Regions from separate parts of the Homo sapiens genome. Here regions 1, 3 and 4 are each linked to region 2. The links come from fine-mapping of genetic effects on gene expression. A gene starts in region 2. Each other region holds a variant in brackets. All regions are shown on one strand. Distances are from middle to middle.

The links. PIP is the estimated chance that this variant, and not a neighbour inherited with it, causes the effect.
Region 1: its variant is fine-mapped to the expression of NDRG4 in spleen (GTEx, PIP above 0.99).
Region 3: its variant is fine-mapped to the expression of NDRG4 in fibroblasts (GTEx, PIP above 0.99).
Region 4: its variant is fine-mapped to the expression of NDRG4 in thyroid (GTEx, PIP above 0.99).

The regions. Positions count from the first base shown.
Region 1 is chr16:58,473,958-58,482,058 of GRCh38, forward strand. It overlaps a transcript of NDRG4 not described here. Among named protein-coding and RNA genes, the nearest start is that of NDRG4, 22 kb to the right of the region's middle. The variant G/A (reference allele first, on the strand shown) is at 4,156.
Region 2 is chr16:58,495,755-58,503,858 of GRCh38, forward strand. NDRG4 (NDRG family member 4) reads left to right here and starts at 4,389. Exons shown (of 15, transcript NM_001242835.2): 1 at 4,389-4,515; 2 at 8,044-8,104. The coding sequence starts at 4,495. It also overlaps the pseudogene RNU6-103P. RefSeq lists enhancers at 1-432, 433-988, 4,247-5,063, 5,064-5,881, 5,882-6,698 and 1 more and silencers at 4,218-4,297, 4,308-4,367.
Region 3 is chr16:58,670,348-58,678,451 of GRCh38, forward strand. SLC38A7 (solute carrier family 38 member 7) reads right to left here. Exons shown (of 12, transcript NM_018231.3): 5 at 7,986-8,104; 6 at 6,979-7,077; 7 at 5,942-5,999; 8 at 5,593-5,707; 9 at 1,749-1,896; 10 at 698-897. Among named protein-coding and RNA genes, the nearest start is that of SLC38A7, 10 kb to the right of the region's middle. The variant T/C (reference allele first, on the strand shown) is at 3,796.
Region 4 is chr16:58,563,436-58,571,539 of GRCh38, forward strand. All of the region lies in intron 16 of CNOT1 (CCR4-NOT transcription complex subunit 1), which reads right to left. Among named protein-coding and RNA genes, the nearest start is that of SNORA50A, 7.6 kb to the left of the region's middle. The variant T/C (reference allele first, on the strand shown) is at 4,886.

The DNA of each region.
Region 1 (8,101 bases), 22 kb before region 2:
TCCTCATCTCCTCCCCTCCTGGCTCACTCTGCTCCAGCCACCCTGGTTTTTTCACTTTTCTTTTCTTTCCCTTTTTTTTTTTTTTTTTTTTTTTTTTGAGAGAGAATCTCTCTCTGTTACCCAGGCTGGAGTCCAGTGGCGTAATCTCAGCTCACTGCAACCTCTGCCTCCCAGGTTCAAGTGATTCTCCTGCCTCAGCCTCCCAAGTAGCTGGGATTACAGGTGTGCACCACACACCACACACCCGGCTAACTTTTGTATTTTTAGTAGAGACGGGGTTTCACCATGTTGGCCAGGCTGGTCTCGAACTCCTGGCCTCAAGCCGTGCACCTGCCTTAGCCTCCCAAAGTGCTGGGATTACAGGCGTGAGCTGGCTTCCTTTCATTTGCTTGCCTGACCGGCTTCCTTTCGTTTGCTCAAACATGCAGGCGCCTGCCTCCTGGCCTTTGCGCTTGCTGTTCCCCCTGCCCTGAGTGCCCTTCCCGGACATCCCAACGCTCGCTCCTGGATCTCCTTCAAGTCTTGCTTGCCTCCCCTTCTCAGCAGGTGGCTTCTCACTCTTACCACCCTGTTTCACATCCCTCTCTCTCCCCTCCTGTGAAGCTGCTTCCTGCATTGCTTAGGTCGTCTGACACTCTGTGAATTTACTTAGGTTTGTTGATTTTTTGCCTCCCCTCCAGCACCCAGAAAGCTCCCGAAGGTAGATATGTTTGTCTGTAATGGTCAGTATTTTATCTCCAGTCCTAGAACACAGTAGGTGCCAAATCAGTATCTGGTGAATGAATAAATGACTTAGGCCTGGGCCACTCCTGGGGTATGGACATTCGGGCCCAAACCACATGTACTGAGAATGGGGAAGGGAGGTTTCCCAAAAGGAAACCCAGTGCTGTTAGGAGAAAGGACCTTGGTGTCAGGTGGGGACCAATGCAGGTAGCCCCTTCTGCAGACATTGCATTTGAGGCAGGAAAGCTCTGGGAGTTGCTTGGAACAGAGTCCCTCTCTGCCAGATGAATGTCATTCCTCAAATGCTAATAAATTAGGCATTTCAGAGAAGTAAGGGGCTTTCCGTGACAAAAATGCCCAGTAAGAAAGATGCCCCTCGGGCTCTCTCTTTACTGGAGACTGTATTGCAGACTCCTGTGCCAGAGAAGTTTCATTGACTCAGTTTACCTGTTTGAATCTTGCACAAAGATCCAGGATATGTGTATCTGGGAAATTTGCCAGCTTGGGCAAAGATACACAGCTGAATTGAGTGAGGCACCCGTGTAAAAGAAATGCGAGAATTCGTGACAAAAAGTGCCAGTTGCTTTTAACCTTTTAATGTAGGTCATGGTTACCCATGTCAGTATAATTATTGTGAGCTTGTGAGGTGTGGGTTAGGAGGGGCTGGCTCACTGGTTTAAACTGCCAGAAGAGAATGGCATCATGGATTATGCTGCCTGCTGGAGAGAGGAAGTTGCAGGTTTGCTCTAGCATTTCCCTGTTTTTCTCTGGGAAAGCCCCACCCTTTCCTTTTTCCTTGATTTCCTTTAGCACGATAGGGTGGGTCTCCAAGAAAAATATCCCAAGTTTAGATTAGCTTCAGCTGTGTGTAACAGAAAACCCATGGTAATAATAAGTAAGATAAAAGTATTTTTTTCTCTCTCATAACCAGGATCTCAAAATAGAGGATTCCCAAATCATGGCTTCATGATTCTCAGGTACCTTGACTCTTTATTTCTATATCACTACTATGCCACCTTTAGAATCCTGCCTTTGAGCCTAAAATGGCTGTTCAAGCTCCTGCCATCACATCTGTATTCCAGCCAGGAGGCAGGAGGAAGAGTCAAAGAATGGCATGTCTCCCCTTTTTTTTTTCAGACAGAGTCTCACTCTGTTGCCCAGGCTGGAGTGCAGTGGCACAATCTTGGCACACTGCAACTTCTGCCTCCCAGGTTCAAGTGATTCTCCTGCCTCAGCCTCCCAAATAGCTGGGGTTACAGGTGCTGGCCACCACACCTGGGTAATTTTTGTATTTTTAACAGAGATGGGGTTTTGCCATGTTGGCCAGGCTGGTCTTGAACTCCTGACCTCAAGTGATCCACCTGCCTCGGCCTCCCCAAGTGCTGGGATTACAGGCATGAGCCACTGCGCCCAGCCATGTCTCCCCTTTTAAGAACACTGCCTGAAAGTAACATGCTTCCATTTACCTCGCACTGGCAGAACATCACGTCATCATAAACAAATTTTATTCCCATCATCCACCTACTCATCTAAAATATGGGGATTATTATTAAGGAAGAAGGGGAGAACAGATATGGGGGGATAATTAGCAGTCTCTGCTGCAGTAGGACTCTTTCACTGGTTCCCTATAGAAGCTGCCTAAATGGAATGTGTTATTGGAATTCTAGTTCCATCTGGCCTTGCCCTTGGTCTTAGAATTAGAGGCCTGTTGTGTCTATTGTAATGTCCGTGCTTAACACCTGGAGCCATGTTGTGTAGAGAAGCAGAGTTTACACGTTGGTGCTGTACATCACCTTCTTACTTTATGAAAGCGCTGTGTTATGTCCTTTCTAAGATGCACCTTTTTTTTCATACTTTAACATCTCTAAGATTGGGATGCATCATACAGTCTCTGTTGGCAAGGGGGGCCTCATGCTGTTACTGCCATCACATGAACATCAGAATTTGCGAGTGGATGTCAGCAGCTCAGAAGGAAATCCCAGAGATAGTAGTAGAGCATCCTTGATGCTGGAGAAGCCCAGGCTGTGTGGAATAGCACAGCATTAAAAACTCCATGATAGAGAGATTAAGAGACATTGGACTCGAAATGTGAAAAGGAATACCTTAAACAATTTATTTCAATTATATTTTCCTTTTTAAAAATTTACAAAAGTGATAGATGCTTTTTTAAAATCTGGATCTAATATATTCTAAAAGAGTTCTTTCAGTAAGTACAAAAAAACCCCTGAATGACAGGAACTCATCATAAGGGTAGCAGTTCTGACACTACTTTATATGTATCCCAGGAATGAACAAATAAGCAAAAATATTATGGATGAGAGCCAGGTTTCTCACCACTGGAGAAAAACAATTGCAATCAAACGGGGGAAGCTAGAATGCACTCTGTGGTGTTGAATTAGAGTTAAAGGGATCAGTATAAATTCCAGATTCCATATATATGATATATATGTGATATATATATGTGTGATATATATATATGTGATATATATATATATATGTATGTGTGTGTGTTAGTGTCTTGCATACATTTCATAGCTCTGCCTGCTAAGAGGGCCTAGACCAATGACACCCCAGTAGCAATGAGCACACCTGGTGTCCAGATCTTGATTTCTAAACGTCATTCTCCAATAAAGGGAACTAGGTCTCCTTGGAGAAATGGTTGATTTCATGGTTGAGGCAGAGAAAGTACAAGATGAGTTTAGAACATGTAATGAGGCTAGAATATTTGAAACTCAAAAAATAATGGGTACATGTTGAAAGCACAAAAGAGCCACCTTAAGGGAACTCCCAATGGCCAAGCCTGGCCCAGTTTGAACAATGAAACAAATAATGATAGCAATGGCTTTTAACCCACAGGGTAAAATAAATATCCATGAGTCCTTATTGATATAAATAAGTAATTGAATAAAGGAGGAAAAAGGACAACTCTTTCTTACAGGATAATTCCAATAAGTGTAGAAGAGATTATGGAAATAGAAAATTATCTTCTTTTCCTCAGCAGGAAAAAAAAAAAGAAAATTATCATTAGGCAACCACCAAAGTAATAATTGCTGTAGGCAAGAATCAATAGTTGTTAAAATTAGCAGGGGTAAGGGGGGTGGAGGGGGTGGGGAAGTATGATGAGACATAGGATGTTTACATAGTGTCAAAGTATCTTCCCACACTGCTTACAAAGGGAAAAATAGTAACATTTCAGTGGAGAAACCTGGCAGAGAGCTCCTTATCAAGGGATCAAGGTTAACGTCCTCTGTAATAAGACAGATTGACATCATGTGCCTGCTGATACAAACTGAGAAGGGCACCTCCTTCTGTCGTATTCTTGCCAAAAATGTATAACCTCAGTCTAATCATGAGAAAACAACAGACAAACCCAAAGCGAGGACATTCTACTGACTAACTGGCCAGTACTCTTCAAAAGTGTCAAGGTTGGCC[G/A]GGTGTGGTGGCTCACGCCTGTAATCCCAGCACTTTGAGAGGCCAAGGTGGATGGATCACGAGGTCAGGGGTTTGAGACCAGCCTGGCCAACACGGTGAAACCCTGTTTCTACTAAAAATTCAAAACTTAGCCAGGCATGGTGGCGGGCACCTGTAATCCCAGCTACTTGGGAGGCTGAGGCAGGAGAATCACTTGAACGTGGGAGGCAGAGGTTGCAGTGAGCCGAGATCGCGCCATTGCACTCCAGCCTGGGCGACAATATGAGACTCCATCTAAAAAAAAAAAAAAAGTGTCAAGGTTATAAAAGATGGGCTGATAAACTGTCCCATTTGGAGAAGGCCAAGGAGGACATACCAACTAAATACGATGTGGCATCCTGGGTTGGGTCCTAGACCCAAAAAAGGCATTATTAGGAAAGCTGGTAAAATATATGTACGTTCTGTATATTACTTAACAGTATGTATCAGTGTTTAATTTCCTGGTTTCTCTAATTGTATTATGGTTCTGTAGCATGATAACATTGGGGGAAGCTGAGTGAAGGGTATGTGGGAAATGTCTGTGTTTCTGTGCTTTTTTGTTTTTTGTTTTTTTTTTTTGTAATTTTTTTGTAAGCCTAAATATTTTTCAAAATAAGTTAAAAGGGGGGAAAGTATTATGTCTTCATTTAACTGGCAGTGGTTTTTTTTTCTTATTGATACATAAAAATTAGTGTCACTTGTAATCAGTGATATCTTAGATTTGATAAAATCTGGTGTATAGGATTAAAAAAAGAATCTCCCTTTTATACCCTTCTAAACCCATATCCTTCCTCAGAGAGAAGCATTGTTACAGTTTACCCTGAATCATTTGAGGATTTTTTTTTGGAAGTTGCCAATATATGTACCTGTTCAATGCATATAATTTTTACATAAATGAGATTATTATTATTATTTTGAGACAGAATCTCACTGTGTTGCCCAGGCTGGAGTGCAATGGCGTGATCTCGGCTCACTGCAATCTTCGCCTCCCAAGTTCAAGCAACTCTCCTGCCTCGGCCTCCCAAAGTGCTGGGATTACAGGTGTAAGCCACTGTGCCCAGCCATAAATGGAATTATTTTTACACATTATTTGGTGACATGCCTTTTTTTCTTAATTGCATATTTTAGAATGCTTTCCCACTCTGTTTGAGTGGAGCTGCCTTGTTTATTTAATGGCTGCATGGTACTCCAGGGTGCAGATGTTCCATAATTTATTTCACCATCCTCCTGGTGCTCACTGAGGTGGTTTCCAGATTGTACTCCTCCACTCGGCTGTGCAGTGAGCACCCTTGTGTACTGCCTCTTAGTGCACACATGGGTGTTTTTCTTTAGGATAAATACCTGGACACAGAATTGCAGAACTGACAGATATTTGCATTTAACAGACTACCAAGTTGTTCTCCAAATAAAGTTGAACCCACTGCCATCCAGCCAGCAGCATGAGTGTGTGCCCACTTTCCCAGAACCTCACCAACCTTGCACATTATCAGTCTTTTAGTAAGTTGTGGTCTGTGTGAAGAATGATTCATTCGTTCATTTACTTACATGATTGAACAGAAATGTTGAGTGTCTGCCCTGTGCCCAGCACTGTCATAGACACAGGGAACATCCGAGCGAACAAAACAGATGTAGTTCTTGTCCCCTAGGAGTGTCTGAGGAGCAATGGTCTGAGCAGGTCATGTTGCTCATTGTTTCACGTGCATTTCTCTGACGGCCAGTGAGGCAGAGCAGATGCTTTTCCTGTGTTGTTTCTTCTCTGAATTCCTATTCCAGACCTTCGCCCACTTTTCCATTGAGTGCATAGTATTTTCTTTCTCCTTATTGAGCCCTAGAATGGGAGTGCTACTAAGTCTGTCCCCTTTAGGGGATTTCGGCAAACCTGGTGGGGAGACTGGAGACACAGGTAGGATTTGAGAGGAAGGAGGGAGCCCAGACCAACCTGTAGGAGGTGGGGAATGTGCAGAGGCTGCATCTGCCCCTCCGATTTTTTGTTTGTTTGTTTGTTTTTGAGACGGAGTCTTGCTCTGTCACCCAGGCTGGAGTACAGTGGCACGATCTAGGCTCACTGCAACCTCTGCCTTCCAGGTTCAAGCAATTCTCTTGCCTCAGCCTTCTGAGTAGCTGGGATTACAGGTGCCTGCCACCACGCCCGGCTAATTTTTGAATTTTTAGTAGAAACAGGGTTTCACCATGTTGGCCAGGCTGGTCTCAAACTCCTGACCTCAAGTGATCTGCCTGCCTTGGCCTCCCAAAGTGCTGGGATTACAGGCGTGAGCCACCGCACCCGGCCCTGCCCCCTCCAAGTTTTGTGGCCAAACTCACTGACCTGGAAGCCTCTTGACAGCCAGCCCTGTCAAACAGCCTTGTACCAGAGTGGCCTCACCACCTTGGTGGTGTGCATTTGAATACTGCTTTATGCCTATAACTGACATTGGAACAGTGGCATTTGAGCAACAAAAATGTTTATCCTGTGCTTTCCTATGGCTTCTGTGGACAGGTCAGCCGTGGAGATTTCTGGCCTGTCCTCCATCCATTTTACCAGTTATTAAGCCTTTGTGTGTTTGGACTCTGATAGGGTTGGACAAATGAACAAGATCAGGTCGCTGTCCTCTGGGAGATGACAGTAGGGAGATTAAACCACTCATCCATGCATCAGTGGGTTAGCAAGATGATAGAGTCCCAGCCTGGCCAACATGGTGAAACCCCATTACTACTAAAAGTACAAAAATTAGCTGGGCGTGGTGGCAGAAGCCTGTAATCCCAGCTATGTTGGGAGGCTGAGGCACAAGAATTACTTGAACTCAGAAGGCGGAGGTTGCAATGAGCTGAGATCGTGCCACTGCATTCCAGCCTGGGCGACAGAGTGAGACTCTGTCTTAAAAAAAAAAAAAAAAAGATGATAGAGTCCACACATGAGCATATGAGCTCCAGACCTGGACATCATGGGTTCAAATCCAGGTTCCATCACTTACCAGTCGTAATACCTTGGGCTGGTTATGTCACCTGTGTATGCCTCACTTCCTCAGCTACAAAATGAGGACAATAATAGTACCTACCTCCATGAGGAGTTAGGAGGACTAAATGAGCTTATACATGTAAAATGCCTGGAACATAGCATTCATTAATATTAAGGATTGTTTTTCATATTGCTCCCATTGTAGGGATATGATGGGGAAAGGCACTCTAGGCAGAGGGAACAGCATGAAGAAAGGCATGTGCTTCCCATGGGGAGGATGCGCCTACTGAGTCAGCCCGGGTCTTTAGCCAGGAGTGCCAGAATCCAAATATGGCTGCCTAAGACAGTGGGAATGTGCTGGGGGTGCGTGCGTGTGTGTGTGCGCGCGCATGCAGGGTGGTGGTGTGGTTGGTGAGGGCATAGGGATTCACAGGCTCAACCCAAGGAAAAAGCAGAACTGGTCAAGTTCAAGTTTGACATAAATCAAGGAGCCATACCTAGATATGGAGCCTGGGCTGGAGAAATAATGTCCCTTGCATCCTCCTGTCCTGCCACCCACCCGGGGAGGCGGAATGCATGTAGGCGGGTGGAAGCATGCACTCTGGGTCCCCTCCTGGGTTGGCCACAGGAGGACTTGCACCAGTCAGTTGCTCCTTCCTGTGCCTCTTATTTCTCATCCGTGAACTGGGAATCCTGAGGGAAGATTGAGCCCCCATCCCTGCCCCACCCTCAGTGCTGTCCCAGGCCTAGGAGATCAGGATAAGGACAGGGAGAGAAATAAGAGGGTCCAGTTCCCTGGACAGTTCCAGACCCCCTATATAGTGCAGTTGGAAGGTGATTCCCCAATTTCCGGGGTCCCAGATTTCTGGGGCTTCTTTTCCAACCAGGCACTGGTGTAGCGTCGGGTAGGGTGGTGGCCCATGTATCACTGAGCACCAACTCTGATCCAAGCAGTAGGGATACACCAGGCCC
Region 2 (8,104 bases):
GGTCACGCGCCACTTCAAGGACGAGAGGGGAGACTTCAGGGCAGCCAATGTACATGTGCTCAGATCCTCCGGGAATGCCATCTCCAAGCACAAAGGGCTCTGGAGCTGGAAGGAGAGGCTAGGGTTCCGGCAGTGGGGAGTGAATGGGAGCCCAGGAGGTGGGATGGGAGGGAAGTGGTCGGGAGCTGGCCCAGGCTGGTGGGAAGGGACAGCCGGAGATCAGGGCAGGCTCACCAGGGGATTTTCTTTGTCCTCCATGCTGCAAATGAGGATGAGCTATGCAGGCAAATGGGCCCTGGAGGAGGGGGTTGGCCAAGTAAAATCTCAGAGCAGCCAGCCGGTGCCTCAACACACTGGTCCCACAGTGTGGGAGGCCGACGCCAACAGTGCTGATGCCAGCCCCAGCACACAGGCCCACGGTGTGGGGGACAGGCAGAGGGGAATCCTGGAGTCGTGGAGGAGACCCTACCATACCTCTGGGTTCCCAACTGCTGCTGCGAAGCTGCCTCTGGCCCCTGAGCCCTCTGAGCTGCAGCCCCGGAGTTGCGGGGCCCAGGGTGTGTGGGACCCCGGTTCTCAGGATCCTCTGCTTGGTAAAAGGCAGGTTGCATTAAAAGGCACCTTCCTGTCCACTCCTGTCACACCACATGGAGGCAGCATTTTTTTCGTTTTTTGTTTTAGAAAAGCAGCCACAAGAATGGATGGTCGTTATCTGGGCCAAGACCTGGCAGGGATTTTATCTCCTGCTCACTATGGCAGGCGTTGTCACTGTCCCCTGCCTCCGTGGGGGCAGCCAGTGGGGGAGGTAGTATAGCAGAGGGACTAACATGAGCCAGACAGACCTAGGTTCTGGCCCCGCCACTTCCAAGCATGTGACCTCCAGCCCAAGTCACTCCATTTGTCTACCGCATTTTCAGGGAGACAGGCAGCACGGACCTCCCGAGTGTTTCTAAGGCGATGGTGCCCATGGGCCCCTCATATGGACACTCAGCTGACCGTGACGAGTGGCCACCAGAGTGTGGAGTTAGCACCAAACTGCCTGGGTGTGGTTCCTGGCTCTGTGCCCACTAGCTGTGTGATGTTAGGCAGGTTACCAAACCTCCCTGTGCTTTATTTGCCTCATTTGTAAAGAGGGTATTAAGAGAGAAAATGAGTGCTCGCCCCAGCAGCACATATACCAAAATTGGAATGATACAGAGAAGATGAGCACGACCCCTGTACAAGAATGACCCACATATTCGTGAAGCCTTCCATACTTAAAAATATTTTCCAAAAAGAGGATAAAGGCTGGGTGTGGTGACTCATACCTGTAATCTCAGCACTTTCGGAGGCTGAGGCAGGTGCATCACTTGAGGTCAGGAGTTTGAGGCCAGCCTTGCCAATATAGTGAAACCCCATCTCTACTAAAAATACAATAATTAGCCAGGTGTGGTGGCAGGCGCTGGTAGTCCCAGCTACTTGGGAGGCTGAGGCAGGAGAATGGCTTGAACCCGGGAGGCGGAGGTTGCAGTGAGCAGAGATTGCACCATTGCACTCCAGCCTGGGCAACAGAGCAAGACCATGTCTCCAAAAAAAGAAGAAGAAGAAAAAAAAAGAGGGATAGAGAGAATGGGTAAAGCACTCCAAGAAAGCCTGGCACATGGAGGACATTTGAACATAGTGTTTGCCACTCTTGATTCTGAGACCTCAGGCCCACCCAGAGTGCTGGGGTACTAGTAGCTGCCGCTGCTTACTAGCCAAGTGAGGAAATTACCTAACCTCTCCAACTCTCAGTTTCCTCATCCCTTCTCATAGGTCCATGAGGATTATATGTATTATCCTTGCAGCTGCCTGTGCAGTAGGCACTGCTGTTTCTCCCATTTACATACGGAGGCTCAGAGAGGTTGATTGACTTCCCCAAGGTCACACAGCAAAGAAGTGGCAGAGCTATGAGTGGCACCAGGGTTTGGCTGGCAAGACCTGGGTTTGGCTGGCAAGACCTGAGCCTGCCTTGTCTGGCCACTGTAACTGCACAACCACCAGAAAAAGGGCCAACAATTTGGAGAGGCACACAGGCTGCCTCATTTCTCCCCTGCCAGGACCTGGGCAGGGGTGGGGTCAGATCTAGAGTGATTTCTGCAGTTTTTTCTGATTCTCACAGCAGCTTGGTGAGAAAGGCACACAGTCCCTGCTTTACAATTAGAAGCCTGAGACACAGAGAGGTTAAAAAAAAAATCTTGCCCAAGGTCACCCGGCTGGTAGGGGGCCAGGAAGGACTTAAACCCACGTCTGTGGGTTTGCAGACAGCTGAGCAGTCATGGAGGCTGTGGCTTGGAGTGGGCAGTGTCGCAGGTCAGCTTGTCACCTGGGTCCAAAGGTGGGGAGAGGCCACTCAGGGGTCAGAGGTTGGAGTGGGCGTAGGATTGGGTGGGGCCTTGGGGGACATGGGAGGGCATTGTGGGCAGAGGGCAGGGCTGTGCCTCAGTTTTCCAAGCCTCTTCCTGTGCCACAGTGCCTGCAGGAATGGGGAGCATGGCCAGGAGGTGACGGGCCAGGGGGACTCCCCATTCTACTTCCTGCTGCCCTGGGGAGCACAGGGCCTGTCAGTCTTCCCTAGGCCTCCAGAGTAAGAGGTGAGAGATGGAATAGGTGCCCCCAGGCAGAGGACATGACCAGCAATAGTGTACATAGCAGGTGTCGACCAGGTCAGCAGGTACCCAGAGATGAAGAGATGACCACTTTCTCCAAGGGCAGCCAGTCAGCATGCAGGGCCATCAGCATGGGCTGGGGTGAGTGGCGTGTTCCTTCTTCAGCAAGACAGGGAGAGGAAGCCGGATAGGAGGCAGCTACTGACGTTGACATGCCCACCTCCTGTAGACCCACCCGGCCCTTGTTCCTGGAGGCAACCAGTTTGGGGCTTGGCTCTCGGGTATCTGGGGAGCAGGACACTAGGGCTATCTCAGGCTCTGTGCCCTGACCCCACCCTTGCCCAGGCCCTGGCAGGAGAGAAATGGGGCAGTCTGTGTGCCTCTCCAAACTGTTGGCCCCTTTTCTGGCAGTTGTGCAGTTATCGTGGCCAGACAAGGCAGGGTCAGGTCTTGCCAGCCAAACCCTGATCCCACTCATAGGTCTGCCACTTCTTTGCTGTGTGACCTTGGGCAAGTCAGTCAACCTCTCTGAGCCTCCATATATAAATGGGAGAAACAGCAGTGCCTACTGCACAGGCAGTTGCAACGATAATACATATAATCTTCATGGATTTGGGAGCATAGGCACGCAGCAGCCCCCTTCTCTCTGTGGCTCCTGCTCTCCCAGCCTTGGGCCCCCTCCTCTGCTTCCCTCTCTGGCCTATTTCCTCTCCTCCTGTGCACTTCTTGGCCTTTCTTCTCCTCTGCTCACTCCACCTGCAGGCCTCGGGCGAGCTCGCCACCCAGATCCTTGCTGCCCAGGAGAACAGGGCACGGAGCCTGAGATAGACCTAGTGTTCTGCTCCCCAGAGACCCGAGAGCCAAGCCCCAAACTGGTTGCCTCTGGGAACGAGGGCCGGGTGGGTCTACAGGAGGTGGGCATGTCAATGTCAGCAAGCTGCCTCCTAGCCCCGCTTCCTCTCCCTGGTGGTCTGGAGCCCCTGGCAGCAGGGTGAGGGTGGGGAGGGCAGAGCTGGTGTGTGCCTGACCATACCCCTGGCCCTGCTATCTGCCCAGGGCCCCTGGCCCCCGGCCCCCAAACTCCATTTTCAGCATGTGGGGAAACCCCCTGTATCTGCGTGGGCAAGGTGGGATTTTCATCCCTGGTGGGTGGAGAAGGAGCAGCCCCTTGAAGCAGGGTGATAACCCAAGTTGCCCCAGAAAGCAGCAGCTCCCCAGGCCTCCACAAGGTTAAGCGATGGAACCTTCCTAATGGGAAGGCTGGGCGTGGGGGTCTGGTCCCCAAGATGTTGGGCTTGGGGCCCTCTCGGGCCCTCCATACTCCCCAAGGTGTGGGTCAAGGGCTCTAGCTGTCTGGGCAGTGCCCATGCACCCTGCCCTGCCCCGCATTGGTAAGCTGTGCATGTCTGTGACGACCCTGTGTGTACCTGACATGGGTGAGTCTGTACGTGTGGTCTCGGCTTTTGTATTCGGAGGATCCCGTGTGAGCTGCAGCTGTTGGCGTGTGCCTATGTGCTGGGGGCGGATGCAGGGGCTGGGGACCATCAAGGATGATGTGTGGCTGGGGTGGGAGGAGCAGTGACAGGGCTGGGGCAAGGAGGACTTCAGAAGCCAATTGGAGCCAGGCTTGTCTCCCAGCAGCCAATATGGGAGCTGGGGCTCCTGGTAAGCGAGTGGCTGCTCAGAAACCCTGCGGGGAGGAGGGGCTAGCTAGGCTGGGCCAGGATCCCTGTATAAATGGCCCAGGAGCTGTGCCCCATCACAGAGCCGACCATCTCCCACTCGAGCTGCCCCCGCCCTCTGGACCCGAGTGACTCAGGCCTTTGTTTGTCCTTCCTGGTAGAGGCGGGTTCCCTCCCTCGGCAAGATGCCGGAGTGCTGGGATGGGGTGAGTGAGGGCGCTGCGGGCATCAAGGTGGGCCGGGAGGATGGTGCATCCTTATGACCCACCGCAGGGAGGAAGTGCCCCCCTCAACCCACATCTGGTGGCAGCCCGGCCTTCAAATAGCCTCACCCTGGGGTCACTGAGACACGGCCAGAGTGCTCCAGGTTCCCTGGTGATCCTGTTTGCAGGAGTGGCTGGGGGCAGCTGCTAGTCAGAGCCCATAGCAGGGGCTGGGGGGAGCGTGTGGTTGGGGGGTGGGTGACATATCTGCAGGAAATGGAACGTGGAAGGCACTGTCTGACTTGGCTGCATTGCCCGTGTGGACCCGGGCGCTAGTGCCTGCATGTCCCTCTGACCGTGTGCCCTCTGGTGTGCGCTTGGATGGTGTCTGCCTTGGTGATGCCTGGGGCCATCAGGCCAGGGGGCGGGGGTGTCCTTGGTGAGCCCCCGAGGCTGTGTGCCCAGTGTGCGTGCCGGGTCTGTGCGTGCAGGGGCTGCCGTCCCAGTGGGCGGCCGTCTAGCTTGTTTGGATGGCTGCGCCAGTGTGATGGGAAGGACAGGCGGCCTCTTCCTTAGGAGCCACCTCACAGTTCCCAGGGCTCTGCTGCGCCAGCCGGGCAGAGGCAAGGAGGTCTGGGCCACACAGGAATGACAGCCTTTCAGGCAGGGGTCCCTGCTGGGGAGGAACGAGGAGGGGTTGCCTGCCTGCCTTATTTTGTAGGTGGGGGAAGGCAACGCTGGAGCCGTGAAGCTGGCAGGGCTAGGGGACCCCAGGTGGAGCCCAGGGCACCTCCTCTCGCCGGGGCATCAGGTACCCCGGCCCCATTCTTCCTCAGGAGGGAGAGGCAGGGGCAGACTCACCCCCACCCCCGGGCCCCACACGCCTGCCCTGCCGGTTCCGCAGACGATAGGTCACCCCGCACGCACGGAGGTGACGACGTCAGCACCTGCCCGCCCATGCAGACCCTGTCCCCTGAATTATTGATGCGGCTGACAGGCCGAACCACAGCACCACCAGCACCAACTCCCACACCGGCGCAAAGCCCGGCTCAAAGCCCCACTCCCCTCCAGTGCTCAAGGTCACAGGCGAGGGGAGACGGACCGACCGAGAGGAGCCGCCACAGCCCCCTCCCCTGCTGCCGCAGTGCTTCCCGCCTGCGCCTACCTGGAGGCGGGGCCGGCTCTGACGTCACCCAGAGCCAATGGGAGTGCTCGGCCCTGAGGGTTGGGGGCCTCAGAGTGCACCGCGCTGTGGCCCTTGTGGGGCTGCCCTTGCGCAGCGCTCCAAGGGACGGGGATGTTTGGCTTCGATCAGGCTGAACTGAGTCCTGAGCTCTCCGCAGAGGGTGAGAGAAGGCGTTAGGGAGGTTCGCAGCAGGGTTCAGCGAAGGTCACTGGACTTCGTAGGACAGGTAGCCCGGTGACGCCCAGGCCCAGCCCCAGCCCTTCCCATCCTGGGAGATGAGCCCTAGTAGAGCCTGATCACGTCACCTCAGGGGGATGGGGACAGGGGCGGCCACACCAGGGCTGGGAGAAGACAGTGGGGCCTCCTCAGCAGCAGAGAGCAGACACCCCTCACACCCCTCAGGCGGACCCGCACGCTGCGGGTCTGGGTTTGGAAGGCACCGCCCTGGGCTCTCGACGTCTGACCCCAGGAGGATAACTGTCCTTTATGCAGCAGGAGGCGCATTGCAGTTCTTTTGCAGCCCCACCCTCCAGAGCTGAGAGAACTCACAGGTGGCTGTGAAAGGGCTGCCTGGTCAGGAGCTCCCTCGGGTGGAACCTGATCTCCTGTGAACATGCAGCCTTCAGTGCACCGCCCTGGCCCCTGAGACTGGCACCTGGCAGGGCCTGCCCTCCCTACTCTGGGATTGACCTTGGGCAAGTCATTTCCCTTTCCTAGCCTCAATTTCCTCCTCTATGGCTTGGGCCTATGTGGGAAGTAAATGAGAAAACTGTGGGTCAGTGGTCAGTGGCGGGGAAGTGTTCCTGGATTTGATGGGCCCCGAGAAAGGATAGGCCTGGGATGGGAGGGGCTGTGTGGTCTGTCCCCTCTCAGCCCTGGTGTGGCCTCCTCATCCCCTGGGTGGTGCAATCAGCCGCATGGCTCACCCTAAGGCTCATTACCTGGGCTCTCCTGGAGGACAACAGGGAAATAAAAAGGGCCTGCAAGTCAAAGAGTGTTCTCCAGGGTAGAGCCTTTGGCCACCAGGTTGGTGCCAGCTTGTCACTCCACACTGGAGACACAGGCCTGGACAGTGGTCCTCTGAGACCAGACCCACTAATGCTGGCCCCTGAGCAGCTGTCTTCTGCTGTCTAAATCTCCTTTCCCATTTGGAGGCAGGAACTCAGGTTCTTTCTAAACCAAAGTGTCCTCACCTGCAAAACAGGGACTAGGGTTCCTGTCTCTTGGGTAACATGCAGGAAGCCTGGCACACAGTAGGTGCTCAGTCGCTTGATGTTTCTTTCATGTCCTTGACCCCAGCCCCACCTCCAACTCACTGGGCCACTCACGTGGTTCCCAGGGCTCACAATGATGCAGAGAGGATCGGTTTATTTAGCTCAGATGGCCCCTCTTGAAGTTTGCCCATCCGAGTGGCTAAGAATGCCCAGTTTGCAAAGGAACAGCGAGAAGGGCATTCTCCCAAGGCTCAGGGATGCCCTAGCATAACAGCCCCCTTTCTGGGGCTTTCTCCAAGTGCTAAATGCTCCACAAACATTGGCTTGTCTAGTTCCCGCAAAGTCCCTGTGAGGTGGTTCTGGATGGAGAGGCTGAGGCACAGCAGAGAAGTAACATGACATGCTCAGTCACAAGTAAGGGGTAGAACCAGGTCTTCCTGAGGAAGTAATGACCTTGAGCAGCAAAACCAAAGGTGTGAACTCAAGAGGATCCCAGAGCAGGCTCTGCAGAAGGCCTCTAGAGGGGATGGGGAGGGGGGTCTGACCCGGGCCTGCCTGAAGGGAGCCCTTGAGGATGCTGGGCTCACACAGAAGGGCGTTCAAGGTGGAAGGAACCACATGCGCAAGAGCCTTAGAGTGGGAGCCAGGGGCAGTGCCGGGGTCGGGGCTAGGCTTGGCTGGCACGGGGTGTTTTCTGAGGATTCCAGGCAGGACCACTGAGGCCGTTCCCCTGCAGCAGCAGGAAGTGCCTGAGAGTTCTGAGTGTGAGAGGGACTTGGGCTGGGGAGGCAGAGCTGTCCAGGAGGGGCTGCTGCAAGATGGAGAAAAACAGCCTCCCTGGACCCTCAAGGGCGGAGGACAGTGACAGCACAAACCAGTGGCTGGTTTGCAGAGAGGACCAGACCTTCCCCATGCAGATCAGTTCACATTGTCTCTGTACTGAACAGCCCTGAGAAGGGGTGTTCCATCCATTCAGTCCTCTCTGGGGGCTTCTTGGGGTGATGAGAACAGGATGCCCCAAGTAGGGGCTCTACCACAGGCCTAACAGGTACCAGGCTGCGTCACCTCATTCCCCAGAGGAGCCAAGAGCGGAGGCTGCCCAGAGTGTCCAGCACGGTCTCTCCCCTTCAGGAACATGACATCGAGACACCCTACGGCCTTCTGCATGTAGTGATCCGGGGCTCCCCCAAGG
Region 3 (8,104 bases), 170 kb after region 2:
ACAGGCTGGCATCTGACAAGACCCCTTGGGCAGCATGCTAGACTCAGCTAAAGGGACAGCACTCAATGGTGACTCAGTGGTGGCCCAACCCCAGGGGTCTTCCTAGTACACTTCCCAGCAGATCTGGCTCCCCTGCTCCAAGCAAAGCAGCTGGGGCTTTCAGGGTGGCTTCCTGGATAGAGACAAGCTGGAAAAGGGTGGAACTCATGGCTGGGCAGACAGGACAGTTCTCCAGGGATCTGGCGGTAGATCTGTGTCTGGAACCCAGGTTCCCTGATGTCTGTGTCAGGGTGCCACCCCAGACCCCACTGCCCTCTGGGCTGTAATGGGCTGAACCAGCCAGATAGATCCCTCATAGTCAAGGAGCAGCAGACACCTGAATGAATGGTTAAAAGAATAGACTCTGGACCCAGACAGCGTGGGATGGAAAAGGTTACTAGTTGAGTTTGTTAAGCTCTAGGCAAGTCTGTGACCCTTTCTGAGCCCCACGTGCCATCAGTAAACTGGAGATCACAACTATACCTTCTTTCCAGGAGATAATGCTTGGATAGGGGCTAGTACAGAGGCGAGACAGGTGATCAATTAGTGCTGGTGGTTACTCTCTCCTGCATGTTTTGAGCAAGTAGGGAGCTGAGGCTAGGCAGGCCCTGGGAGTCTGTGCTGTGGGGCTGTGAGATGGGGCGCCAGGGGTCCGCACCTGGGAAGACGAAGATGAAGCAGGCGGCCAGGCCTCCAATGACTGAGATCACCTTGCCGATGTCAGGGATGAAGAGCGCCAGCAGCAGGGTGAGCAGGAACCAGACCAGCGTCTGCAGCACTCGCCGCCGCCGCTCCCGCCCCACGTCCTCCTCCACTGGCACCCCCTGGTAGCGCAGCCACAGGCCTTCCACCACCGCCCTGCCCACATGGAGAAGGGCTTAGAGGTGCCCCTGCTGCTAGCAGCTCCCCACCTCTAGCTCACAGGAGCCAGACCCCTAACTGGGTAGACTGCGGGGAAAGCCCCATTCCTGACCCTCAGTTTCCTCTTCTGTAAAATGGGCCACCAGCACTCTGTTTACCACAGGGACTAGAGACGGTGAATGTCGAGAGCTTAGCACTTTGCTTTACATCACATGGAAACTGATATTGTTTTTTCCTTAAAAGGAACTGTCTGGGGCATCCAAAGGGGAGGGTGTCCATGTGAAAGCTCAGGAAAGGATCTGGATAGAGATTCTTTTGTTTTTTGTTTTTTTGAGACAGGGTCTGGCTCTCTCACCCAGGCTGGAGTGCAGTGGTGCAATCTTGGCTCACTGCAGCCTTGAACTCCTGGGCTCCAGCCATCCTTCTGCCTCAGCCTCCCAAGTGGCTGAGTAGCTGGGACCACAGGTGCATCCCACCACACCTGGCTATTTATTTTATTTTGTGTAGAGATGGGGTCTCACTAGGTTGCCCAGGTGGTCTTGAACTCCCAGGCTCAAGCGATCCTTCTGCCTCAGCCTCCCAAAGTGCTGGGTTTAGAGACGTGAGCCACCGTGCCATGCCATGGATAGAGATTCTTACAGGACTCACGGAATGTTCTGGTGACCCCAGGACAAAGGGCGCTTCTGACACCTGGCCTGGGATATGTAGGGACCCATCCTAGGCACCGACTCTTTTCTACAGGCTTCAGTTTCTCCTTCTACAGGATGGGGTCCACACAAGGCCAAAGGACCATGTTGGAAGCGCTCACAGGGGCTAGGAGGGGCCCTGGGGAGTGGAAGGGGGCTCACCGCCCACAGAAGTGCAGGATAGGGTAGGAGGTGAGCACGCTCAGGATGATGAAGGCTCGGGCAACGGCCACGGCCATGTCCTCCGAGGGATAGGACAGGAGCACGTCAGGATCCACAGCAGCTCCAAAGGTCAGGAAGCCACAGATGCCTGTGGGCAGGGACAACTGGGTCAGGGCAACCCTGGGAGGGTAGTGGGGTGGACTGTCCACTCCTCCTAGGAGCAACATCAGCCTGGAGGCTGCAGCAGCAGCTCTGGACACTTAGACGGAGGCTCAGAGTGGGAGATGGGGCTCCGATCAGATGCCTCCCTCCCTGACTTCTCAGATCCCCCATCGCTGGAAGCCCTCCAGCCCCCAGCTTTCTGAGCCTGAACTTGCCCAGCACATTCCCACCTCAGTGCCTTGGCACTGACTGTTCTGTCTGGCAGACCTTCAGATGCCATCTCCTTATCATTTGGGTCTCAGTTTAGATGTCCTTCCTCAGAGAATGCTTCCTGCCAGTCCATCTACAATGACCCCCACCCCAGGCACTCTCTCACATCACGCTGTCTTATTTTTCTTTTCTTTTTTGAGACAGAGTCTTGCCCTGTTACCCAGACTAGAGCGCAGTAGTGTGATCATGGCTCACTGCAGCCTTGACCTCCTCGGCTCAAGCGATTCTCCCACCTGAGCCTCCCAGGTAGCTAGGACTACAGGCAGATGCCACCACACCCAGCTAATTTTCTTGTAGAGATGGGGTCTTGCTACGTTTCCCAGTCTGGTCTTGAACTCCTGGGCTCAAGTAATCCTCCTACCTCACCCTCCCAGAGTGTGAGCCACTACACCCAGCCTTCTTCTTTTTTATTTTTTTGAGATGGAGTTTCACTCTTGTTGCCCAGGCTGGCACGCGGTGGCACGATCTCGGCTCAGTGCAGCCTCCACTTCCCAGGTTCAAGTGATTCTCCTGCCTCAGCCTCCTGAGTAGCTGGGATTACACCATGCCCGGCTAATTTTTTTTTTTTTTTTTTTTTTTTTTTTTGAGATGGAGTCGCGCTCTGTCATGCCCAGGCTGGAGTACAATGGCATGATCTTGGTCTCCTGGGTTCTCATGCCTCAGCCTCCTAAGCAGCTGGGATTACAGTCACCTGCCGCCACACCTGGCTAATTTTTTTTTTTTTTTGAGATGGAGTTTTGCTCTTTCACCCAGGCTGGAATGCAGTGGTGCGATTTCAGCTTACTGCCACCTCTGCCTTCTGGTTTTAAGTGATTCTCCTGCCACAGACTCCCGAGTAGCTGGGATTACAGGCGCCCGCCACCAAGCCTGACTAATTTTTGTATTTTTAGTAGAAATGAGGTTTCACTATGTTGGCCAGGCTGGTCTCGAACTCCTGACCTCGTCATCCGCCTGCCTCGGGAAGTGCTGGGATTACAGGCGTGAGCCACCACGCCCAGCCCTAATTTTTTTATTTTTAGTAAGATGGGGTTTCGCCATGTTGGTTGGGCTGGTCTCGAACTCCTGACCTCATGTGATCTGCCTGCCTGGGCCTCCCAAAGTGCTGGGATCACAGGCGTGAGCCCCAGTGCCTGGCCGTTTTTTTTTTTTTTTTTAAAGACAGGATCTTGCTCTGTCACTCAGGCTGGAGTGAAGTGGTACAATCATAGTTCCACTGTAGTCTTGAATTCTTAGACTCAAGTTCCTCCTGACTTGGCCTCCCAAGTCACTGGGACTACAGGCACATGCCACCATGCCTGGCTAATTTTTTTTTTTTGAAGACAGAGTCTCACTTTCTCCCCCAGGCTGGAGTGCAGCGGCGCGATCTTGGCTCACTGCAACCTCGGCCTCCCAGGTTCAAGTGATTCTCATGCCTTAGCCTCCCGAGTAGCTGGGATTACAGGCACCACCACCACGCCCGGCTAATTTTTGTAATTTTGATAGAGACAGGGTTTTGCCATGTTGGCCAGGCTGGTCTCGAACTCCTGGCCTCAAGTGATTCACCCACCTTGGCCTCTCAAAGTCCTGGGATTACAGGCGTGAGCCACCATGCCTGGCGGACGCCCAGCTAATTCTT[T/C]AATTTTTGTAGAGATGAGTCTCACTATGTTGCCGAGGCTGGTCTTGAACTCCTGGCCTCAAGCGGTTCTCCCATCTCAGCTTTTCAAAGTGTTGGGATTACAGGCATGATCCACTGGGCCTGTCCCCTAACACTCATTTCTCTCTTTTTTAGAGACAGGGTCTCACTCTGTTGCCCAGTTTGGAGTGTAATGGCATGATCATGGGTCTCTACAGCCTTGATCTCATAGGCTCAAGCGATCCTCCCACCTCAGCCTCCCAAGTAGCTGGGTCCACAGGTGCATGTTACCATAACCTGGCTAATTTTTAAATTTTTTGTAGAGATGGAGTTTCACCATGTTGCCCAGCCTGTCTTGAACTCCTGGGCTCCAGAGAACCTCCCACCTTGGCCTCCCATAGCTGAGATTATAGGTGTGAGCCACTGTGACTGGCCTCATCGCTTTCTAATTTTTTTTTAACTGTACTATCACACTGGTCTTTAAGTAAACAATAATACAAATAAAAATAATAACAATAATAATAGTAATTAATTTTTACAGGCTTATTTTCTGTCTCCCCAGCCAGGACATGAGCCCCAGGAGAATAGGGATTTGGCTGTTTGCCTCTCTTGTTCCTGGCTGTGTATTCAGAGGCTAGAACAGTATTGGCCCAGGCAGCTCCTACGGTCTATCCGTGGAAAGAACTCAGGGGATCCTTCTTCCAGGGTCTCCTAGACTTGCTCCCTCACCCCAACCACTCTCCACACGGCAGCCAGAGCCACCTTTCCCCGAACCACCCCCCTGCTTAAAACACTTCCTCGATGACTCCCAGCAGCCCTCGAGGCCCAACAGGATCTGGCTGCCAGTGCCTGTCTGGCCTCACTGCCTTCACCTGCCCCCATCACACACCACTCCAGCCACATAGACTTTCTTCCTGGCCCTGCCTCAGTGATTTGGTGTTTTGTGGTTCCTCTGCCTGGAACCCTTCTTCCCCAGCTCCTCCTCTTCTGGCTCTTTCTCATCATTTGGGCCTTCTCTGAGAAGAACCTTCTGTGAACCACTCCCAAAGCCACCCATCCAGTCCCATTCATACCTTCCCCATTTTAGGCTGGGTTGGTGGCTCATGCCTGTAACCCCAGCACTTTGGGAGGCCGAGGCAGGAGAATTGCTTGAGCCCAGGAATTCAAGACCAGGCTAGGCAACATAGTGAGACCTTGTCTCTGCTAGAAAAAAAAAAAAAAAAAAATTAGCTGGGCACAATGGCACATGGCTGTAGTCCCAGCTACTCTGGAGGCTGAGGCAGGAGGATCACTCGACCTCAGCAGGTTGAGGTTGCAGTGAGCTATCATCATGCCACTGCACTCCAGCCTGGGCGACAGTTTCTGAGACCCTTTCTCAAAACAAAATAAAATAGAATAAAACAAAACACACCTTCCCTATTTCACTGTCATCAGGATGCTTGCCACCATCTGGAATTCCTTACTGATTCCCCAGTTACTCCTGCATGACTGTCTCTCCAACAAGAATGTCAACTCCATGAGGGCAAGACCAGTTCTGTCTCTCTCCATGGCATCCCCCATGCTGAGAACCGTTCCTGGCACTTCCTAGGCACCAAGTTAGAACTGGTGAATGAATGGATGAATACACCACTCTCATCTTGGCAGGAGGAGGCTCCAGGCAGGCCAAGTTCAAGCCAATGCCTATACAAGTCATGCTGGGAATGCAGGGCTGTCCCCAGGAAAGCTAGGCCCCAGGACCTAGGGACTCCTGTGGAAGTGAGAGCACTCTAGTCCCAGGTCTTGGGGGGGGGGAGCACTCACCTGTCCCCATGTAGACAGCGAGGGCTATGACCATGGCAGCTGTCACCACTCCACCCCAGGTCTTCACTTCAGGCTGCTGCATGCTGTTGAAGACGGGCACACTGCTGACGTGGCACTGTCCAGGTGAAGGGCACCGTCATGGTGGGGAAATGACCTCAACCCCAGTTTCCAGAGGAAGGTACCTTGGGAACAAAGACCCCAGGAACAAGGGGCAAGTCCTGAGGCCCCTGTTCCATCCTTCCCCCCAGGATTTCCTCCATTCTGCCTGGGTTCCTCCTCCTTGCTGGGTTCCATCCCAGGGTGGGGTGATCTAAGGGGACAGCAGGGACCTTGCAACTGGCACTGGCACCTGAAATCCGAAGCAGATGGTGGGCATGGCATTGAACACAGCCATCCAGGAAGCCGGCCTGTGAACAAACACACATGGTGCTGCCACCTGGGAACCCCTCAGAGCCACAACCCACCCCACGCCCTCACTCTTCGGTCAGCCCACCATGGTCTCCAGCAACTGGGATTCCATAGCTTCAACCCACAGAAGTCTGGGAACAGGGAGAAGAGGCATCCTTATGTCCCAGGGCCCTCTGGGATGGGGCCTGGAGGTTCAGAAAAGCCCCCCTGGGGCCAAAATCCAGAATTCCTGGCTCCTGGACTGGGGCTTTTGCTTTACTGGTTTGTTCCTTTCAAAAGAAGGAAATTGTTTTTTTTGTTTTGTTTTGTTTTGTATTTTTTTGAGATGGAGTCTTGCTCTGTCACCCAGGCTGGAGTGCAGTGGCGCGATCTCGGCTCACTGCAACTTCTGCCTCCCAGGTTCACGCCATTCTCCTGCCTCAGCCTCCCGAGTAGCTGCTACTACAGGCGCCTGCCACCACACCCGGCTAATTTTTTTGTATTTTTTAAGTAGAGACGGGGTTTCACCGTGTTAGCCAGGATGGTCTCAATCTCCTGACCTCATGATCCGCCCGCCTCGGCCTCCCAATGTGCTGGGATTACAGGCGTGAGCCATTGTGCCTGGCCCCCCCCCTTTTTTTTTAATAATAAATTCACCCTCAAAGATACAGAAATTACAGATAAGCAGATGCTGGAAACACAGGCAATTCGACCCTGGGATTCCACCCTCAGGTTCCTCCACAACCCAAGGCCTAGCCTCACACTGGCTCATCTGTTGGATGTAGGTGGCAAAGTGCCTCCTGTCTCTGATTCTTGCTCTTCCTTCCAGTAACATCAGAGCAGGGGCTCTTTCCTCCTTCCTACAATGACCAAGTCAGCCCTGATGAGCTCATGAGCCTTGAGAAGAGCACCTGTGTGGCCTTCTGGTTCCTGACCCAGCACCTGCTGGGGCCCAAGTGGTGGCTTCTTCCCCATGTCTCCTAGGGCCCTCACCCTCACCTGGTCAGGATGTTCCCTGGGGTCATCTCTTTATCTGGCCAGATGTACTTGATGATAACGATGGCTGTGACGTACCAGGTACCCACGACGCTCAGGAAGCTGCCGGGAAGGAGAGACTAAGTGTCCTCATCCCCAGCTGCCTCTTATCTGATTCCACCCCTAGGGACATCCACCTTCAGCTCTAGCGACCACAAGTGTCCACTGAATGAACCGGAGACTATGCCAAGCAGACTCAGGAAACGCCTGAGAAGTAGTTTCAGAGAAACCTGCCACAGCTAGGAAGGAGCTGGACAGCCAACAGGGGACCTGATCAGCATTCCTGGCCATCAGGAAGTGCTGGTTCAGCTCCATGGCTCAGAGACGATGCAGAGAGCAGAGCTCCAAAGCACACCTGGGACTTGAATCAGAGCAGCCCAGCCCGGGCAGGGGCTGTGGGAGACCATCCTCTGAGCCTGGCCTTTGAGAACTAAGAGATGCCAGAGGTAAGAGGGTTGAGAGTACAGACACTTTTGTGTCAACATTTATGGGAGCCTTGGAGAGAGCGGAGCATGGCCCCTGCACTTACAGACGGGGAAGCCTAGAATCCCACAGCCTTTCAGACACCGAGACAGGAAACCAGTCTCCTTCCTTCATGCCAAGCTGCAGGTAAGATGCTGGTAGGCTGACAGTCTCAAAGACCCAAATTCCTCCCAGGGAATGCCAGGAGGCTGCCTTCACCGCCCAGATACCACCTGTTCCTTCTTTGACAAGGGCACTTAGAACTGAACTACTCATGGATGCAAAAGGACATTTAGAACTGAATCTCTCATGGATGCATCCTTTTTCTATGATGGAGACAGAAAAGGATGGTCTTATCTGAAACCCTGCAAGCCCCGGTCTGCCCTGCCTTGCCTACTCTTGCTCCCCAAGGTGAGGTGGCATGGAGGAGCAGGGTTCCCCAGGAGCCCTTGGGTCTACAGCTGCCCAGGATCATAGCTTCTGTCTGACCCAGGCTGGGGCCTCCAAACCTGGCATATTTCTGGAAACCAATCTCCCTGGGGATGGAGAGGGGCAGGATGAAGAGGAAGGCAGTGAGGCTGATGGTGAACTTGCGGTCTGTGTACCAAGGGCCGCTGGCCCCCTCCGG
Region 4 (8,104 bases), 68 kb after region 2:
CATATCTCAGAAATGCATTCCTATTGTTATGCAATGCAGACCACAAAAAAGAAAAGGGAGCCTTATACTCCTAAAGGTATTGGTCTACTTATTTACTTTAGAAACAAGTAGAACATTAGTTTCCACAAAAATGCTCAAAATAATTAAAAGTATTTCAAATTTAAGGAAACAAGAGGTCCTCTGAAGCTTCATTTACAAATGTATCTGCATTCCAAATACTCCACAACAATTAAAACTTCATAGAGATACCGTATCTCCATGTTGTCCCATATCTCACCATAATAACAGGCACATACTATATTAGCAAGGCTGTGGGGAAATAGATGCAATAACACTGCTGGTTTTACAAAATAGAAAAATCCCTATGGAGGAAAATTTTGCGATACCTAACACAATCGCAGATGAATTTACCTATTATTCTGACACATCCACTTCTAGTAGTCCAATTATACATTGGTAAAAATGATGGATGCAAAACACTGCTCACTGCAACACTGTATGTGATACAAAAGCGAAAACAATGCAAATTTCCACCAGTAGGAGACTGGTTGACTACAGTACAGAACAGCCATTCAATGGAGTATTATGCAGCAAGTAAAAGAAATAAGGAAGCTCTCTAATTGTATGGAGTGAACTCTAGGATATAAGATCAAGAAGCAAGTTGCATATTATCTCTTCTACAGTGAAGGATAGGGATAAATATACGAATAAGTATGTATTTGTTTTTAATATAAGATAACCCAAAAATATTAATGATAGTGACTAACTACAGGAGAAAAGGAGAACAAGGTAGAGGTATCAGAGTTCAAAGGAAGATTTCTCCAAATGTATCTTGCTTTAGAGTTTTGACTTTAAAACCACACCTATATTTTACCAATCACAAAAACAAAAGCAAACAAACAAACCACTAAATTAAAAAGAAACTGTTCCAAAAAGACCAGTGCCATGGGTTAGAAAAACAGGGTACCAAGCAGTAGATGGTAATTATATTATACTGCATTGAATCCAAAATGCCTTCAATTGTGTAAGCCACACTAATATTTTATGTCCTATGCAAAAACAAAAAAAGTAATTCCACCAATTGTAATATAAGACACATCACCAATGAGACACATCATTTCAGAAATGTTAAAGTAGGAAGAAAAATAAAATGGGCACTTTAGAATAAAATATGGTAAATTAAAATATTCACCTTTACTATTTAGGGATAAATTCTTATTTCTTACACAGTTTCAAACTTAGAAGTGGCAAGAATTGGCCGGGTGTGGAGGATCACCTGTGGTCAGGAGTTTGAGACCAGCCTGGCCAACATGATGAAACCCCATCTCTACTATAAATGCAAAAAATTAATTAGCTGGGCAGTGGTGGCGCGCACCTGTAATCCCAACTACTCGGGAGGCTGAGGCAGGAGAATCGCTTGAACCTGGGAGGCAGATGTTGCAGTGAGCGAAGATTGTGCCATTACACCCCAGCCTGGGTAACAAGAGAAAAACTCCGTCTCAAAAAAATAAATAAATAATAAATAAATAAAAGAAGTGGCAAGAATATTACAATTAACTCCCACAAATGCTTCTCACGCCAATGGTATACATTTGCCTTATTAACCTAACCATTATTTCTATACTTTTCGCCCTGAAGCATTGGTTTGGATATACCATGAATTTATCCCTAAATGCTTCACTACATGTTTTCTTCTTTTTTTGAGACAGGGTCTCACTGTCGCCCAGGCAGGAATGCAGTGGTACAATTATGGCTCTGCCTCTGCCTCCTGAGTTCAGATGATCCTCCAACCTCAGCCTCCCCAGCTGCTGGGACTCCACGCATACAGACCATGCCCAGCTAATTTTTAAATGTTTTTTTTCAGAGACGGGGTTTCGCGACATTGCCCAGGCTGGTCTCAAACTCCTAAGCTCAAGCAATTTGCCCACCTCAGCCTCCTAAAGTGCTGGAGTTACAAGTGTAAGCCACCATGCTCAGCCTTCACTATATATTTTCTATGAACAAAAACATTTTCCTACATAGCCATGTAAAATCAAACATCAGAAGCTTAACAATGATAAAATAAATAGGCCATGTTCACATTATACCAACTATTCCCACAATGCTCTTCAAAGCTATTTTTCCCATTGCATTAAGTTGTCACCTCTCTTCAGGTCATTTAATCTGAAAGATTTTCTTAGCCTTTACGTGTTCTTCTTGACTTTATTTTTTTAAGTACAACTCAGGGCCAAGTGCAATGGCTCATACCTGTCATCCCAGCACTCTGGGAGGCAGAGGTGGGCAGATCACTTGAGGTCAGGAAGTTCAAGAGCAGCCTGGCCAACATGGCAAAACCCCATCTCTACCAAAAATACAAAAAATTAGCCAGGTGTGGTAGTGTGCGCCTGTCGTCCCAGCTACTCAGGAGGCTGAGGGAACTGCTTGAACCCAGGAAGCAGGGGTTGTAGTGAGCCGAGTTCGCACCACTGCATTCCAGCCTGGGCAAGAGAGCAAGACCCTGCCTCAAAAAAAAAAAAAAGTACAAGTCAGTTGTTTTGTAGAATGTCCCTTGATTTGAGTTTGTCTGATGTTCTAAATTCAAATTAGGTATTATAACCTTACAGAATAAATTACCTTGTATTCTTCTCAGTGCATTTTATGAAACACATGATGTAGGTTTCAGATGGTGATCACTTTGATCAGTAGACTAACATGGTATCTGACAGGTTTTTCTGAAGTTGTTTTCCCCCTTTGTAATTACAATGTAATTTGTGGAGAGATATTTTCAAACTACATAATTATCCTGCTCTTCAAACATATATCCATTACTATTAACACACATTAAAGATTACAACTCCATCGTAATTCTTCTATATTTATTAGTTGAAATAACTTTCCTTCTCTGGCATTTATTATCATCAGTATGGACTCAAAATACTTTGGATACATTATCTTATTAAATTTTTCAACAAGTACTGCTAATAGATCAATTAAAGAAATTAATTGAAACCTGGAAGTTAGGTAAACTGCCTTCTTACAATAAAAACATTTTGCGCAATTTTAACAGGCAATTAACTTTCCAGAATATTCCACTGCAGATGGATTAAAATGTATAAATGTAAAAGGTTACACTTTAGAACTTGAAACTGTAGAACATTTAGAGCTTATAGAGCAGAGTGCTTTGGAATGGATAATTATTTGTTGTACAAGGCAGTCTTGTGCACTGTGGAATGTTTAGCCAGTATGATTGGTTTCTTTTTTTTATTTTTGAGACGGAGTTTCACTCTTGTTGCCCAGACAGAGTGCAATGGCAAGATCTTGGCTCACCCCAACCTCTGCCTCCCGAGTAGCTGGGATTACAGGCATGCGCCACCACGCCTGGCTAATTTTTCTATTTTTAGTAGCGATGGGATTTCTCCATGTTGATCAGGCTGGTCTTGAGCTCCCAACCTCAGGTGACCCACCCTCGGCCTCCCAAAGTGCTGGGATTACAGCTGTGAGCCACCGCGCCCAGCCTAGTATCATTGGTTTCTACACTACTAGGTATTAGAGGCACGTTTCTCTCTAATTATAACAGCCAAAAAGACCATCAGGCCAAGCATGGTGGCATGCGTCTATAGGACCACCTACTCACAAGGCTCAGGCAGGAAGACTAAGCCAGGAGTTCAAGGTTGCATTGAGCTATGATTGTGCCTGTGAACATGCACTGTACTTCAGACTGTACAACAACACAGTAAGACCTCATAAGAAAAAAAGAAAGAAAGAAAAAAAAAGGCTGAGCATAGGTGGCTTATGCCTATAACCCCAGCGCTTTAGGATGCAGAGAGGACTGCTTGAGCCCACGAGTGAGCCATGATCACATTACTACACTCTAGTCTGGGTAATAGAGTGAGACTATTTAAACAACAACAAAAAGAAATAATGCTGGCCGGGCGTGGTGGCTCATACCTGTAATCCCAGCGCTTTCGGAAGCCAAGGCAGGAGGAGTGCCTCAGCTCAGGGGTTTGAGACCATCCTGGGCAACATGGTGAAGCCCCATTTCCACAGAAAATTAAAAATAAAAATAAATTTAAAAAATAGGCATGCATGGTAGCATATACCTGTAATCCCAGGTAATTGGAGGCAAGACATCATCTCAAAAAAAAAAAAAAAAACCTTCTCATAAAGCAAAACGACAGGGTATGGGCTGACTTCCTCTCCTTCATAAAAGCAACTAGAAAAGTGTCTGAATCAACTTTTTCAGAACTTTGGAAGTTAACCAAAGGCTTATAACAAGTGGGAAATTTTTATTCAAGAGACTATCAAGTTTTCTAGCACATTAATTTGCCCTATTATTCCCATCTCCAGCTCCACAGCCAGCTTAGAAGCTGACAGCCCTCAATCACAATGAAAACCAGAAGCCTGAGAGGTGAATCAAAACAGGGTTAAAACATCTTCAAAGCCTCCTTCTCAGTGAATTGTCATTATTTCATCTGTATAGGGAGTCTGTGTGAGAACACAATGACAAGGTTGGATTTATTTGACCTGAAAACTGACCCAAACAAAAACCTTTTCTGCATGAGGTGTTTACAAAAAACATTTGAAAGTAACTGTTTTAAACTTATTGCCTATCTGAGGTGGAAGACTACTACAGTTGGAGCAAACTACATACAGGCTAACTAAAAATCTGTAAAGAAGGCCGGGCACGGTGGCTCACGCCTGTAATCTCAGTACTTTGGGAGGCGGGCGAATCACCTGAGGTCGGGAGTTTGAGACCAGCCTGCCCAACATGAGAAACCCTGTCTCTACTAAAGAAAATACAAAATTAGCTGGGCGTAATGGTGCATGCCTGTAATCCTAGCTACTCGGGAGGCTGAGGCATTAGAATCACTTGAACCCAGGAGGTGGAGGTTGCAGTGAGCCGAGA[T/C]TGTGCCACTGCACTCCAGGCTGGGCAACAAGAGCGAAACTCCATCTCAAGAAAAAAAAAAAAATCTGTAAAGAAAAACTTTGAGCCGGGTGCAGTGGCTCAAGCCTGTAATCTCAGCACTTTGGGAGGCCAAGGCAGGCAGATCACGAGGTCAAGAGATCGAGACCATCCTGGCCAACATGGTGAAACCCTGTCTCTACTAAAAATACAAAAATTAGCCAGGCGTGGTGGCATGCTCCTGTAATCCCAGCTACTCAGCTGAGGCAGGAGAATCGCTTGAACCCCGGAGGTGGAGGTTGTAGTGAGCCGAGATCGTGCCACTGCACTCCATCCTGGGCGACAGAGCGAGACTCCGTCTCGATTTTAAAAAAAAGAGAGAAAAAAAAAAAACTTTGGAAGTAAAGACTAAGGTGGCTGTGAATTGCCTGGCTTAGTGCTGAATTGATTCCCAAGATTAGGTTTAAGAAAATCTCGTCAATCTTAGCTGACAACAAGGCTAACCAAGCAGGAACTTCAGTAGCCAACTATTATAAAGAACAGAATTAGTTCAGGAAAGTCACTAAACAAAAAAAGGGCAATAACGAACAATGTGCTCTGCTGAAGAAGGAAGATCTGATTCCAGGAAATGCCATATTATTTAAAGTTGTCTGTTTTCAACAAAAAAATTACAAGACTTGTAAAGAAACAAAAGGGTGTCCCATGCAAAGGGCTGGAAAGCTATGTAGAAATGATCCTTGAGGAAACACTGCTGTTGGACTTACTAGACAAGGAATTCAAATCAGTTACCAAACACATTTATTTTCATTTTATTTTGGTTTTTGAGACAGAGTCTTACTCTGCTGCCCAGGTTGGAGTGCAGTGGCACAAACTCGGCTCAGTGTACCTTCCATCTCCTGGGTTCAAGCAATTCTCTTGCCTCAGCCTCCCAAGTAGCTGGGACTATAGTCGCCCTTCACTATGCCTGGCTAATTTTTGCATTTTTAGTGGATACGGAGTTTTGCCATGTTGGCCAGCTGGTCTCAAACTCCTGATCTCAAGTGATCCACCCACCTTGGCCTCCCAAAGTGCTGCTGGGATTATAGGCTGAAGCCATGACACCCAGCCACTACAGAACACGTTTAAAAGAAAATATATCAAAAGAACTGAAGGAAAACATAGGAATACTATCTCAAAAAGCATGTCCATAGAAATTAGCAAAAAAAAAAACCAAAAAACAGAAATTCGTTTTTTCCCATCAGATACTACACTCTACAACATACCAAACAGAAAAAGTACAGTAACTGTAATAAAGTTTCACTAACCACATGTCCCACCACACATTCAAGCAGACAAAATAGTTCATTTGAAGATAGATCAATTAAAATTATCCAGCCTGAGAAAATGAAAAAAAAGGGGGTGGGGGGATGGGGGCTGAGAACTCAAGGACATGTGGAGCACTACTGAGTGTGCCACCACAAACATAATGGGAGTACAAGGAGAGAAGAAAAAGGTACGGAAAGATTTGTAGAAATAATGACTGAAAACCCGATAAATTTTATTAAAAACATTAATCTAGACACCCAAGAAATTCAATAAATTCTAAGTAGAATAAACTCAAAGAGATTCATACCTAGAATAACATAATCAAGCTGATGAAAGAAAAAAGACAAGGAGAGTATCTTACCAGCAGCAAGATAGAAGCAACTCATCACATACAATACTCAATAAATTAACAGCTGATGTCTCATCAGAAACCATGGAGGACAGAAAGCAGTGGGGGAGCATATTCAAAATGTTCAAAGAAAAGGAATGCCAACCAGGAATCCTTCATCTGGCAAAGCTATCCCCAAAGATACAGGAGGAATTAGGATATTCCCTAGATAACAAAAAGAGGTAATTCATTGCTAGCAGTCCTGCTGAAACAAGAAAAATTCAAGAATCCTGGCTGAAATGAAAAAACACTGAACACTGACCTGAATCCGTATGAAAAACTACTGGCAAAGATACACAGGTAAATACAAAGGACAGTATAAATCTCCTAATTAAAGAACAACTGGGCTGGGTGCAGTGGCTCATTTCTGTAATCCCAACACTTTGGGAAGCTAAAACGGGAGATCAGTTTGAGCCCAGAGGTTCGACACCAGACTGGGCAACATACTGAGAACCTCAACTTTACAAAAAATTAAAAAATTTATCAGGTGTGGTGGCACATGTTTGTGGTCCCAGCTACCTGGGAGGACCGCTTTGAGTCTGGAGGGTTGAGGCTGCACTGAGCTGTGATCGTGTCCTGCGTGGGCAACAGAATGAAACCCTGTCTCAAAAAAATAACTGCATGAAGCAAGAATTATAAACCTTTTGGTGATCACATAATGTATAAAGGTATAATTTGCATGACAATAATGGCAAAAATCAAGGGGAAGGGGACAAAGCCATACTAAATGAAATTTTTGGATCCTACCGAAACTAAAAGATTGGAGTAAGTTAAAATGTTAGTTTTAATACCCAAGGCAACCACTAAGAAACAAAACAAAAAATAAAGTCAAAGAAACATAGGAGTTAAGATGGTACACTACAAAATATCTATTTAACAGTAAGACAGGCAGTAATGGAAGAACAGAGGAACAAAAGTGACAAGAGATAGAAAGATTAACAGCAAAAGAGCCCTATATTATCAATAAATACATTAAATGCAAGACAGGCAGAATGTAGTAAACACAAACACAAATTCACAAACATGCTCCAACCATACCTTCTCTAAAAGAGACCTACTTCAAATTAAGACACATATAGCTTGAGAAAAACAAAACAAAACAAAACAAAAAACAAAACAAAAATATACCAAGCAAACCACCATAAGAGAACTATAATGGTTATACTAGTATCAAACAAAACAAATGTTTAAGAAAAAAACTGTTAATAGAGACAAAGACATTTTACAGTAAGGGTCAATCCATCAGAAATATGTAACCATTAAGGCCGGGCACGGTGGCTCATGACCATAATCCCAGCACTTTGAGAGGCCAAGGTGGGTAGATCACCTGAGGTCAGGAGTTCAAGGCCAGCCTGGGGAACATGGTGAAACCCCATCTGTACTAAAAGTACAAAAAAAAATTAGCTGGAAATGGTGGCGCACGCCTGTAGTTCCAGCTACTCCAGAGGCTGAGGCAGGAAAATCAATGAAACGTGGGAGGAGGAGGTTGCAGTGAGACAAGACAGTGCCACCACACTCCAGCCTGGGTG